4 separate regions of the Homo sapiens genome follow, and all the other regions are reported to be linked to region 1. Evidence: microRNA targets listed by miRTarBase, many of them from high-throughput screens and not tested one by one. Region 1 holds a microRNA gene; each other region holds the end of a gene's coding sequence.
The links. Region 1 holds the annotated microRNA hsa-miR-8066 (CAAUGUGAUCUUUUGGAUGUA, at 1,592-1,612, opposite strand). A microRNA usually pairs through its seed, bases 2 to 8, with sites in the 3' UTR of a target mRNA and lowers its output. Matches are read on the target gene's strand: a 7mer-m8 pairs with bases 2 to 8, a 7mer-A1 pairs with bases 2 to 7 and ends in A, and an 8mer does both.

Region 1 (3,246 bases):
GCAAATAAGTAATTTTCTTAAAAAGGCACAGTCTCACTAAATTCTGCTTTTCAACAAAATTTAAACATTTGGTTTAATCTTATTCCAAAAGCACTAAAACAGTTTGATGTCACTGTTGATTACTCCCTTTTGCTTTCTCAGTAAAGTTATCTCAAAATCGAATTGTCTAATTGAAAGCAAACAAACATGCCAACAAACAAGAAACTGAATTTTGAAATTCTGTCTACCAACAGAAGAAAGAGAATTCCAGAAGAAAACAATTCCACTTAAGTATAGGACAAGACCTAAGGACAATTAGGAAATTTAGTTATCACAATTTGGAAGCAAGAAGAATCCACACACACCCACACAAAAGCAAGTAGATGGTAAATATGAAAATAGCTAAATACAAACTCACAAGTAGACAGTAAAAATGCTAAAAATGGTCATCATTTTAATGGTTTACCTCTGCTTTCCCAACTGTTCTCCAGTCACACCCAAGATAAAATATGAAGGCATATTAAGACTGCCATGGGCCTTGTATACAAAATTGATATTCAGTAATAAAAGTTGAGAGCTCAGCACTGGCTAAAACTGCCTCATCAAAGTCATTACTCCTTTAGGTTCTCAATTACATCAGGGATTCCATAGGCATGAAAAGGCATCTCACTCTTTAGATACAACAACAGTTAAAATGTAGTGCACCAAGGGTACAGTAAAACACATTTTACTGTACACTGACATCAGGCAGATCTTAAGCAAATATAATCTAGCATCATTTGATTAAGGGGGTTTAAAATAAAAAGAGCCTACAGTGACTAGTTTTTAATTTTTTTGGTTTTTTTTTGGGGGGAGCGGGGGGGAGGTGAGGTAGATAGTTACTGGAACACAAGATCAACTGGTTTGTACATAATTTTATTGCTATAGTTCTGCACATACTTAGGTTCAGAAATACAGCAGATGAACGCATTTCTAAAAGTGAGAGTACACACAGGAACAAAACAACAGTTAAGATTGTGAGTTCTCTGAGGATCTTTTCGCCCTTTAAAATTTATATATGCAATAGAGTTCCTCCAGAGGACATCATTACACAAAACCACTCCAGTAGCAACTACTGGGAAGTACCAAATTACATAAAATTAATGGAGGCTCTTTGCAATGAATAAATTTACAACTACATGACGAGTGCCTTTCACTTTTTATTCCACTGAGTGAGCTGCTAGAGTAATCAATTCATTCAGGTATATTAGAGAAACCCATTACATGTCTGATGGGCAGTTTTGTTCCCCCCACCCTTTATTAAGATTTCTGTTTGTGTTTAAAGAAAAATAACCAGGTTGGTCTTGGAATCTACAATGTGGGAGGCTGGGAAATCAGATACGCAAACAGGAAAAAATAAAAAGAGAAAGCAGGATTTGGGTAAGACAGACACAAAAGAATAAAAAGACACATCAGAATTTAAATGTTTTCTCAATAAATCAAATACTTTCAATTTTAAAATACACAAAATTTGCTAATATTCAGAAAATCTTTCTAAAAATTTAAAAAAATAATAAGGATGGAATTACTGTGATCCAACCTTAGAAGACTCCAAGTCAACACAGATTTGCCCTACATCCAAAAGATCACATTGTAACATGCAGAGGCAACAATATGTTCCACAGGAATGTAAGCAAGATGATTTTCTTCTTCTTCTTTTCTTTTTCTATTTTTCTTTTTTATTTTTGAGACAGTCTTGCTCTGTCATCCAGGCTGCAACCTTGACCTCCCAGGCTTAAGCAATCCTCCCACCTCAGCCTCCTAAGTGGCTAGGAACAGGTGCGCACTACCACAGCTGGCTAATTTTTAATTTTTTGTAGAGACAGCGTCTCCCTATGTTGCCCAGGAAGGTCTCAAACTCCTGGACTCAAGCAATCCTCCTGCTTCAGCCTCCTAAAGTTCTGGGATTACAAGCATAAGCCAACATGCCTGGCCAAGATACATAAGAGGAGATGGTATGGTACAGTGAAAAGAGAAGTGACCTAGGCTTTCATTCTTGCAATGAGGTAAACCTTTGCACTCCTATGGAAAGGTGCTTCATCTATAAACCAGCAATATCATTTTTCCTAGCTGCTTCATAGTTTTGACAGGAAAGCCACCTAAGATAATATGTGGAAGGCCTTTGTAAATGTTAGAGCACTATAAAGATCAAAGATAACACAAATTACAGGTGATATTAATGTTGCTAACTCTAACGAAAAAAGAAAGCGCTCAACAAATATTTGTTGAATAAAAGAAAGAATATTTTAAAATAATTTCTAAACCTGAAATCAAATTATTCCAATCATTTTATTTTATATTTATATTAATGTCATATTGTAGAATATTTAGTTGTCTATAACAATAGCCAATATTAATCCAATGCTTACTATTTTCCAGGTCCTGTTTTAAAGACTAGAAATATTAACCTGACAATACCTTCCTGAGATAGAATGTATTATTAGAATCTATTTCACCTGTAAATCTTTATTTGCTTTATTTTTTTACTTCATTTAAATTACTTAAACTAAAATACAGGGCTAGATAATATACCAAAAATCACACAGTCTCAACTCAAAGCTAGAAAATCTGATTCCAGTGACCATGCTTTTAAACTAAAAATGAATTCATTAATACATGTACACTTAGTCAAATTGCTAAGTGTATCTGTACAAATGTTACAGTACATGACCAAAATAGTATTTTCAGGTAAAATCAATTCAGGATTGTTGTTAACTGTACTGTGCTACACAGTCATAATTCTTTTAATATTCTGGAACTATAAGATATCAGTTTTATGGCATCTTATCAATTACATAACCTGTTTCACTCTTCTGCCTTCAAAATACTTCCTTCTCTGTTCCCCAAATATACTTGTAATTGAGCATCTTGTTTTGTGTAGATATAAAAATGCTTAAAAATGAAATTCTTAAGACTCATAGTAGAAACACCTAGATTACATGAATGTTTACAGACAGCATTAGCTCATTAATGGTTTATTTACTAATGACTGCAATAAGCATCATATTAGACACTGAATGGGGATAGATAAGCAATTAAAGACATGACCTTAATCAGTTACTTTTTTTAATCAGTTATTTTTAAAATCTAATTAAGACACAAAACATACTTATGTGAGATGACCTGAAAACTACATTTTAAAAAATCACTTATTTCCAATTGAAAACTGGTAAGCTATTAGTCAAATACACAAGTCCTAAGGAGAAACAGGAAGGGTCAAACTCAGGG
Region 2 (3,246 bases), not on the chromosome of region 1:
AATGGATTGTCATCTGTTGAGCCTGCTATCACTTTCTACAACTCAGGTTCTAAGTTCTTCAGTTAGTGTTAGGAATAGCCTGTGATGAAATAGTACTCACTAACTGAATTGTATTTGTAGGGAATGACCTTCTTGCTGTTTCTTTCTAGGATAAGAAATTGGATAAACAGTATGAATCTCTGTCTCTGTTTCACCCCAGTGTAAGTATACCATATGAAAGAAACATAATCTTCGCCTGGTCTGAGGCCCTGTTAGGCAAAGACCTTCACCTGACCCAGCAAGAGCTTTCACTGGCTGATGGAAGGTCATGTTGCAGCAGGAAGGGTCTAGGTTGGAATGTTTACCCTTCTGACAACAGTGATGGTGAACTTCGATTAGTTGCATGGATGGACATTTAAAGAGCTGTGCTGTCCCCTTCCCAAGCCATAAGGAGTGATTTAGCCATTCAACACTTAGTTAATATTTTGAGTTCAATTTCTCTCTTGGGATCTTACCTTGAGAGGTTTGAATCCTCTTTTGGGTCTTCAAATGGTAAGTAAGTTTTCAGGATGCTTGAAAGCTAGTAATTACTGTTTTTGCCATTAAAAGTAATGGCATTAATTACTTTTGCACCAACCTAGTATTTTTTAGTCACTTAGGTTGAGTGAGCCTCACCTAGCACTTTTTTCTTAGCATCACAGTGCCAACAGAATAAGAGGCTGTTTGATGGGTAAGGGTGGAGCTGTGAGGACCTCCGATTCATCTTTTATTCCTATCAATCAATTGAACCCATGTCTTTGCAGAACGTCGAAATGCTGAGCAGCATGGATTCTGCATCGGTTCGCATTATCAAACCCTTTCCTGCGCCCCAGACTCCAGGCCGCCTGCAGCCTGCCCCTGTGATCCCTTCGGCGCCAGCAGCTCCAAAACTGGACCACCAGAGAATGGACACCATCCAGGAAGACCCCAGCACAGACTCACATATGGACGAGGATGGGTTTGAGAAGGACCCCTTCCCAAATAGCAGCACAGCTGCCAAGTCATTTGAGGATCTCACGGACCATCCGGTCACCAGAAGTGAAAAGGCTGCCTCCTTTAAACTGCAGCGTCAGAATCGTGTTGACAGCAAAGAAACAGAGTGCTAATTTAGTTCTCAGCTCTTCTGACTTAAGTGTGCAAAATATTTTTATAGATTTGACCTACAAATCAATCACAGCTTGTATTTTGTGAAGACTGGGAAGTGACTTAGCAGATGCTGGTCATGTGTTTGAACTTCCTGCAGGTAAACAGTTCTTGTGTGGTTTGGCCCTTCTCCTTTTGAAAAGGTAAGGTGAAGGTGAATCTAGCTTATTTTGAGGCTTTCAGGTTTTAGTTTTTAAAATATCTTTTGACCTGTGGTGCAAAAGCAGAAAATACAGCTGGATTGGGTTATGAATATTTACGTTTTTGTAAATTAATCTTTTATATTGATAACAGCACTGACTAGGGAAATGATCAGTTTTTTTTTATACACTGTAATGAACCGCTGAATATGAGGCATTTGGCATTTATTTGTGATGACAACTGGAATAGTTTTTTTTTTTTTTTTTTTTTTTTGCCTTCAACTAAAAACAAAGGAGATAAATCTAGTATACATTGTCTCTAAATTGTGGGTCTATTTCTAGTTATTACCCAGAGTTTTTATGTAGCAGGGAAAATATATATCTAAATTTAGAAATCATTTGGGTTAATATGGCTCTTCATAATTCTAAGACTAATGCTCTCTAGAAACCTAACCACCTACCTTACAGTGAGGGCTATACATGGTAGCCAGTTGAATTTATGGAATCTACCAACTGTTTAGGGCCCTGATTTGCTGGGCAGTTTTTCTGTATTTTATAAGTATCTTCATGTATCCCTGTTACTGATAGGGATACATGCTCTTAGAAAATTCACTATTGGCTGGGAGTGGTGGCTCATGCCTGTAATCCCAGCACTTGGAGAGGCTGAGGTTGCGCCACTACACTCCAGCCTGGGTGACAGAGTGAGACTCTGCCTCAAAAAAAAAAAAAAAAAAAAAAAATTCACTATCTACAAACCTAGAATATTTAAAATACAAAGATTGCCTGTTTTCAAACACTATTGAATAAGAGGGTGAGATATTTCTTAACAACAACAACAACAAAAAAAACAGGTTGTTTTGAATGTGATGAGCCAGCCAGGAGATAGAATACTACCTGCCCTTAGGGTTGGGGGCTGTCCCCACAAGACTTGATACTTCAGAAACCCTTTTTATTGACCCACAAGCAGATATTTGAATTACTTCTTACTTTATTGCTCCAGGATTCTGGATGGGCTGCATTTACTGTGTGAAGGATAAAAATCATTAGCCTGGATTCTGATTTCTATAAATTGCCATTAAAAGCTTTTTTTCCCCTAAGAACTGAAATGTGCTCACCAGCCAAAACATTTTAACTTGTAAATTTTGAGGGCAGTTAACCAAACCTGTGACTAATCATATCTCCTCCTACCCCCCATTTCCAAGGACATTTGTTACTCAGATACTTGTTATACTAATACTTGAACTTGTACCTTATGGTATTTGCTATCTTTTAACTAGTCATGATATTCTTATACTTTAGTTACACTTTTGGAATTTGATACAAGGTTGAGTGGGGTGTGTGGGTGTATGTATGAGTGAAACAGTTCTCAAAAGAATGTAAGAAAAACCATTTTTATAAAATTGTGACTTTTTAAAAACATAGTCTTTGTCATTTATAGAATTAACAAGCTGCTCAGGGTATATTTTATAGCTGTAGCACTGATATCTGCATTAATAAATACTGTCGAAACACAATGGACCTAAGTATAAAACTTCCCTGAAAAATCATCTAATACTTTTATTATTAATATCAGTGGCAAAGGTTTAAGCCTGAGGAAAAAAGCGTACCTCTACGTATTGACAACTTTGAGTTCTGTAGATAACAAGCAGATTTGGGTCTCCTGTGATTGGCTAATGGTCTCCATCTCCCAGCAGACTTAATTCAGGTTTTGCTTCTGCTACATCCCGCCAGTAAGGAAGCAGCAAAGGTAGAGAAGAGACCTTTTTCTCTATCAAAGGCCAGAGATGCGAGAACAAAAATTCATTCCCCTTTGGAGACAAATGTAGTCCATCTGATAAATAAGATGAGAAGTCCTAGAAGGGAGAGAAATCGGTTAAAGGTGGGTAACTGGCCACGTGTGGTAGCTCACCCCTGTCATTCCAACACTTTGGGGCCGAGGATTACT
Region 3 (3,246 bases), not on the chromosome of region 1:
GTTGCTAAGAGCAACTTTACTATAACTTTTACTATGGCTCTGGCTCTACTGCCCTCTGCTGGATGATCCACCGAACTACATCACACAAATCATTCTTGAGAGATCTTCACTGTACCAGGTGCTCAGTAACTGTGTAAGATGTCTAAATCACTTATTTCTCAAAAAAGGCTGAAAATATATTGTGACTCTATACATCATATCCAAAGGACAAAAATGTCCACAAAATAAGTCACTCATTGAATATCTGCTGTTACTTTCATTCAAAGATGATAAAAATCAATTTCATTTTACCACCTGTTCAAAAATACTTGAAACATAAATAATTTGAATTTCCTATTTCTTAAGTGAACTTACCTAGCAATCATGCAAAGTCACGGCTTTAAAGTGACCAAGAAACACTGCAGGCAATCTGATTAAAGGCTAATTATTTTTTTTAGATTACTCTTCTAGTTACTTGAAGCTAAGTTACAGAGATGATAGAAAAGCTACATATCAGAGTGACAGTAGCCCCTTAATATCTGAACCACCAATTAACTCTGCCACTCCTAAGTAAGCAAGGGTCAGTAAAGATCCTATCTAAGTCAAGTGCAATGCACTAAAATCTTTCAAGGCCATTCCATCCCAGTTCTGGCATGCCCCAGGTTAACTCCTTAACCTCTCTGTTGGAGACTTTAAAAGCATAACAGTCTCAGTTCCAAACTTAGAATAAAGCCTACTTAATGAAGGCATGATTCTTTTAAAACATAAAGAATGTTCTATGTTCTTTAAAAACATCATTACCCTCAATAAGGAACTTCTAAAGAAATATCTAAGTAGGAAAGTCTTGAAATCCACATATACCTATCAACATTGCATATGACATAACATCCATTTAACAACCTATGTCCAAAATCCTAGAAATGTCCAGTGACCCAGTAACCCCATGATAATGTGCTTTTAGATATAATGCAACAGCCAACACCCACCCCTTCTCTCCAATGGGGACAGGCGGAAGCTCGATGGCAAGCCAGAGTGACACTGAACTGTGAAGGTAAGGCTGAGACCAAACAGGCAACCCGAACCCGGCAGAGGAAGTAGGCGGAGGGTTTGTCTGCCCTTCCAGTATCCTTCTGGCCCAATCTCTCCAGACGGACTAATGAACAAGCATCAACTGATGTAACCAGGTGATTCCTAAAGTCAGTGTGGCTGTCCTATGGGTCCCAGCCACAGATAAGATGCAGAGTGTTCCTCAAGGTATTTTAGGTTGGCAGAAAAAGATCACTGGGTGGGTGCCTGGCACAAAACAGGCATTCAATAAATATTTGTTGAATAAATGGGTTCCTTAGGTAAAAGATGTTTTCACTACATATAACAAATAGGATTACTACGTTTCTTATTTGTCCCAGACATAAGAAAAAAATCCTTCAATCTAAGTGTCTGAAAGTATAGCTTTTGTTCTTAATATGCATAATGCAAATTTTGTGATGATGCCGACTGCCCAAATTTTGCCTGTATTTTATTATTTTATGAGCTATGTGTTTACCTGAAATTTGCTGAGAGTAGACCTTAAATATTCTCACCACACAGAAGAGGGGACTATGTGAGCTGAGGAATATGTTAATTAGTTGGATTATGGTAATCACCTCACAATGTATATGTGTATCAAAAATCACATTGTATACTTTAAATACATACAATTTTTGTCAAGTATACCTAAATAAAGCTGGAAAAAAAAATTTAAGAACTATATGGGACTTATATGTACAAGTCTATCAAAATACTATAAAGCTTAACCAGTTAAAAATTGGGGCATTGTTTACCTAAACATTTCAACACAAACCACCTTGTTGCTAGTTAGCTTTATGACAATTTTGTGCTGATTTGTATATTGATACAAAATTAACAACTAATAAAAAACAACAAAAAGTTTTCTGGTAAGATTATAGATTCTGAAATCCCAGAAATCTCCATAATGAGAACTATTTTAGGCAATTTAAAAAAAAAGAAAATACTCTTTTTAAACTTTTGAAATCATGGGTTTTAGTTTATTATTTTTAATATATTTCTGAAAATGTATAATATCAAGACTGTCTGATAATGCTTTTTTAATACTTTCCAGTTCTGCCAACATTCCTGTCATGCATCCTTAATAACAATGCTCTCCCAGAACCGGGATGGGGGGCGGTGAGGTGGGGTTGGTGGGGGAGTACGTTTCTGAGCTAGTTAAAGTCACTGAGGAGGGCCCATACCTCAATGTGTGTTGAGTTACAATTAGAAATTAGTCATGGAAGGACATGTCTACCACAGATATCTTTCCTCACATTTAAATTATTCCATTTCTTCCTACAGTCCTCCTTCTATCTTTAGTTCCATTTTAAATAACCCTTCATCCTACATACCCATTTATCTTGCTTCCTTTTTCTCCCTTTTGTCCCACTAGTATAAGAGATTGTGCTTCAGTAAACTATCCTGATGTGGAGAGAAAAAAATCAAAATGTGATCAATAATAATAGTTTAACAAAGTTAAGATTGCATGCTCTAAAAACATAAGTGATTAACTGTTGGATGCCCAAAAGCACTCTTTGTTTCCTTTCCAAGTTGATGACTCTTCGTATATTTCCTAAAAAACAAAATCATAACAGGTATTAAAAATAGACCATTCTACTATACGAATATAAAATATATTTGAATAAATCAGACAAATGAATATCACATCTATTTCAATGGCTCCTCTTTTAACAATCATGACGAGAGACATCATGGGCAAGGTTACATAGGGGAAGACAGAAAGTCTTTAGTTTTAAACATTTTTTTTTCTTTCCAAACATACCTACTACTTCAACATTTCTAAATATGCTTTTCCAAAGGCAGATATCTTCATTAGCTGTTGAATTAAGTGGTCACCTCTCAGAAGTTCCTAAACAAGTTTGAGCTGCCCTCTGGTATGAGCTGTTCTTTGACATATGCACTCTACCTACCTGCCACCCTTCCCTATATCACAGATGATCTCAAAGCACAGGCCGAGACTAGAACCAGACTAGAAGTTACATAGTTTGTGGAAAGGAGGGGTAAGGAGAACATATCACTTTCTCTTCTCACTCTCTAGTCACATTCCATTTCTGTAGGGAGAGGAATTCAAATTCAACTGTCCTCTGAACTCCTGCACTTCCTCGGACTCTCTATGGACAAACAAAAGCAAAATACGAAGCCCAACTAGTCCTCAAAGCATGAAAACAAGAATATGCCCCAACTCCTGCTCATTACCTG
Region 4 (3,000 bases), not on the chromosome of region 1:
TACATATTTACTTAATCTATACAGAATCAAGTAGATAAAATCAGATTCACATTAGTGAAAAATCTCTACAAAATGTCTTTGAAAAGCAAAACGAGACTGCCTCTTAACAATTCGTATCCTCATGAAAGACGTGGGCTGTAAAAATAAAGCAGTGTGTTTAGCACAAACTAGAAGATATCTGCATCATTTTTTTCACAGTTATTTCCATCTACAGTCTGAAAGAGGTAGATTTTTCTGCAACACCTGAGAATTGAATTGTGATAACCAGGTGTAATAAAGGCAGTTGCATACATAACTGAAAAATACTGGTCTCAAGACCAAGAAATGTACTCCTAACAAGTCTGAGGATGAAATGGTCCATATTACCCAAGACCCAAGTTTTCTCTACACCTTGGAGTCCACCGCCAATATAAATAATACACATCACGATTCCATGATGGTGCAACAATTGCAATTTAAGTGAATTCAACATTTAAACCTTTTCTGGGCCAGCCTAGTAGCATTACAGTGTTCTAGAATATGGTAGATACGGGGTGCGCTACAAAGCCACAACACTGGGCTGGTGAGGTGATCACTGTAGGAAGATGTCCTTCTCAGGGGGTCCCATTTGTTTTTATTCACAGGGTAATGGGAGGAAGGGTTCTGAAAGGACAACAAATGCATCCCAGACAGAATCCATATCCTTTCAACACTATAATAGCATCTAGCTAAAAATACAAAGTAAGCCAAAAGCAGCAGGCCAAGTACTGTTAATCACATTGCTTTAAAGCCCTTGGAAGTATGCAACAGGCCCAAGATTTACAATCTTCCACACAGGACAAGCACCACAAAGAAACGTGGTGGGCTACACAAATGGCTTAATAAAATGTTAAGAGCTGTACATCCAGCAGAGTTCTTGTGAAATAATGTGATCATTAGTACTAATTTTAAGGTGGATTATATTTCTGATCTATACCTGCATTCCCCCCCACCACCAGGGAAATGAGTCTAGTATTTTAGTAGCAGAACAGGGTGTACTCCTAAGAGGCTGTTGGAGGGTGGTGTTTTTTGCTTCTGACTCATTTTGATGGTAATTAGATAATCTACTTTGTGGATTTATTTTCCTCCACTGTGGCCCCTTGAATTAACATGACTGATAGTGGAGGCTTAGATACAACCCTCCTCCACTCCAGGCGGTTTCCTATCTATCTATCTGTTGGACAATTTTCAATTCTTTCAACCCAGTTTCGACCATGAATGTGACAGGACTTTACAAATAACACTTGTAACAAAGAGAAAACCCTTTTAACTGGACAAAACAGAGTTTATTCAGTCCAGTAAGCAATTTAACAAGTGTCAGTCTGATAGTTTTGCTCAGTGGAATGTGCTAACATCAGTTCTAGTAGAACCTTTTATTTCATAAAGCATTTCAATGCAAATTATACCAGGGACAAAGTCAAAACTTCCATCAGTGCAGCCTGATTAATCATCTGCATAACTGCGCCACATTCAACATTGAAACAAAGAACTAATTCAAAAGTTATGTGCTTAATTTCAAATTTTCCCCCAGTCCAAGTGTAGAGACCTTGATAATACTGTGGCTTTTCTTTTTTCTTCTTAAAAAAGAGATGGTAACTAAGAAGGGGGTGAGAAAACAGACTGAACACGTAAGTAACAGATCATGACTAACACTCTGCCAAGTCTTCCCAAAGTAAAAATGTTGGTGCCAGTGTTTGTTTTGGAAATGAAAATCAATTTCGGTTGGTACTGATCCATAATGAAAATTCCCTTTTGAAAAACCTGGAGTACTTTGCTGGTGGAATTTTTGTAGTAACTTTCAAGTAGCCAGAAGGTATTGGAGAAACTTCTGCCTAGTGAAAGTGACACGTGAATTGACCGTCCTTGTCTTTGACAAGGGACTTCATTGAACGGCAAACATGAACACCAGTTTTCAAAGAATAAGTGGCCTTCTATGGGAAGTGGAGAATATGTACTGAAATCCCAAATCAGAATCAAACACAAACCGCCATCCTCTACGGGAGCCCCTCATGGTCCAAATCCCACACCTGAAACCAAAGCAGGATGACTGTTCAGTCACGTAAACACTAAGCTTATTTGTCTAGTGATTTGCCTCTATGTACTATTTTGTCCACAAGTGACATCTTTATATACATATTCTGCCGAAACTTAGGATTCTAGGCATGTGGCCATCTCAATTTGTCCCGAGATATAAATGTTTTCAAAAAGCTAATTTCAATCAAATATGCTTCTGACCCAACACTAGGAGTTTTATTTTTACTTGGCATTTAAATGGGTTATTAGACAAAACTAATCGCCTTGGTATTTTGTTTTTCTGAATAATATTATGGGGGGGGGGGCTAAGACGTTTAAATTAATATTGTTTTCACATCAAGGAACCATCGTCAGAACAAAGTTCCCTTGTAATGGTCGGCCCTGTCAGTGAAATTTTCATTAGGATGATAATGTGCAAGGAGCAGGGAGAGAAAGGACAAGGCAATGAACACATGCATTCCAGTGGAGGGAGAACGAGGCTGATGTGCAACACAGCTGAGGAAAATTTATAGATTAAACTATTCAAAACTGCTAAGCAGCCTCCTGTACCACATAAGTCCAGTAGTTCTAAGAAAATACAGATATGGTAGAAAAAGTAAGAAAATTTTCACCACAAAACCAATAGTTAACTACTAACAGAGAAAGTTATACACAAAATATATCTCTCAATACAGTGATCACACCTCATCTTAGTCAACCGACTCGATGGCCGGAGCAGAGCCTGTGGACGGGGGCTTTTGCACAGCGCTTCTCTGACTCTTGGGCTCAGCCTCCAGGTGCGCTCCCAGGGCTCTTTTCGAGGAAGTGTTCAGCTCCTTGTGAGAATCCAGGGCAGTACAGGGCTGCATCACAGGTGTTGCTAAATCCCTGTTCGCCGCTTTGATGGCCGCTTTGATGGATACCTGCTCTTTCAGGACTTCCACCTTCTCATTGAGCTCATTCCTTTCT

Region 2: the mRNA of IAH1 is a reported target of hsa-miR-8066. Seed matches in the 3' UTR shown: 7mer-m8 at 2,162-2,168.
Region 3: the mRNA of MOCS2 is a reported target of hsa-miR-8066. Seed matches in the 3' UTR shown: 7mer-m8 at 2,473-2,479 and 7mer-A1 at 927-933.
Region 4: miRTarBase lists TXLNG as a target of hsa-miR-8066. Seed matches in the 3' UTR shown: 7mer-A1 at 2,461-2,467, 7mer-m8 at 1,236-1,242 and 8mer at 904-911.

The regions. Positions count from the first base shown.
Region 1 is chr4:101,239,214-101,242,459 of GRCh38, forward strand. It overlaps MIR8066 (microRNA 8066), which reads right to left and starts at 1,659; the gene lies at 1,582-1,659. All of the region lies in intron 1 of PPP3CA (protein phosphatase 3 catalytic subunit alpha), which reads right to left.
Region 2 is chr2:9,488,055-9,491,300 of GRCh38, reverse strand. It overlaps IAH1 (isoamyl acetate hydrolyzing esterase 1 (putative)), which reads right to left. Exons shown (of 6, transcript NM_001039613.3): 6 at 1,559-3,154. The coding sequence ends at 2,972. ADAM17 (ADAM metallopeptidase domain 17) reads left to right here. Exons shown (of 19, transcript NM_003183.6): 18 at 150-200; 19 at 783-2,815. The coding sequence ends at 1,124. Among named protein-coding and RNA genes, the nearest start is that of IAH1, 15 kb to the right of the region's middle.
Region 3 is chr5:53,096,069-53,099,314 of GRCh38, forward strand. It overlaps MOCS2 (molybdenum cofactor synthesis 2), which reads right to left. Exons shown (of 7, transcript NM_004531.5): 7 at 1-2,599. The coding sequence ends at 2,534. Among named protein-coding and RNA genes, the nearest start is that of MOCS2, 12 kb to the right of the region's middle.
Region 4 is chrX:16,841,508-16,844,507 of GRCh38, reverse strand. TXLNG (taxilin gamma) reads right to left here. Exons shown (of 10, transcript NM_018360.3): 10 at 1-3,000. The coding sequence ends at 2,742. RBBP7 (RB binding protein 7, chromatin remodeling factor) reads left to right here. Exons shown (of 12, transcript NM_002893.4): 12 at 1-167. Among named protein-coding and RNA genes, the nearest start is that of RBBP7, 27 kb to the left of the region's middle.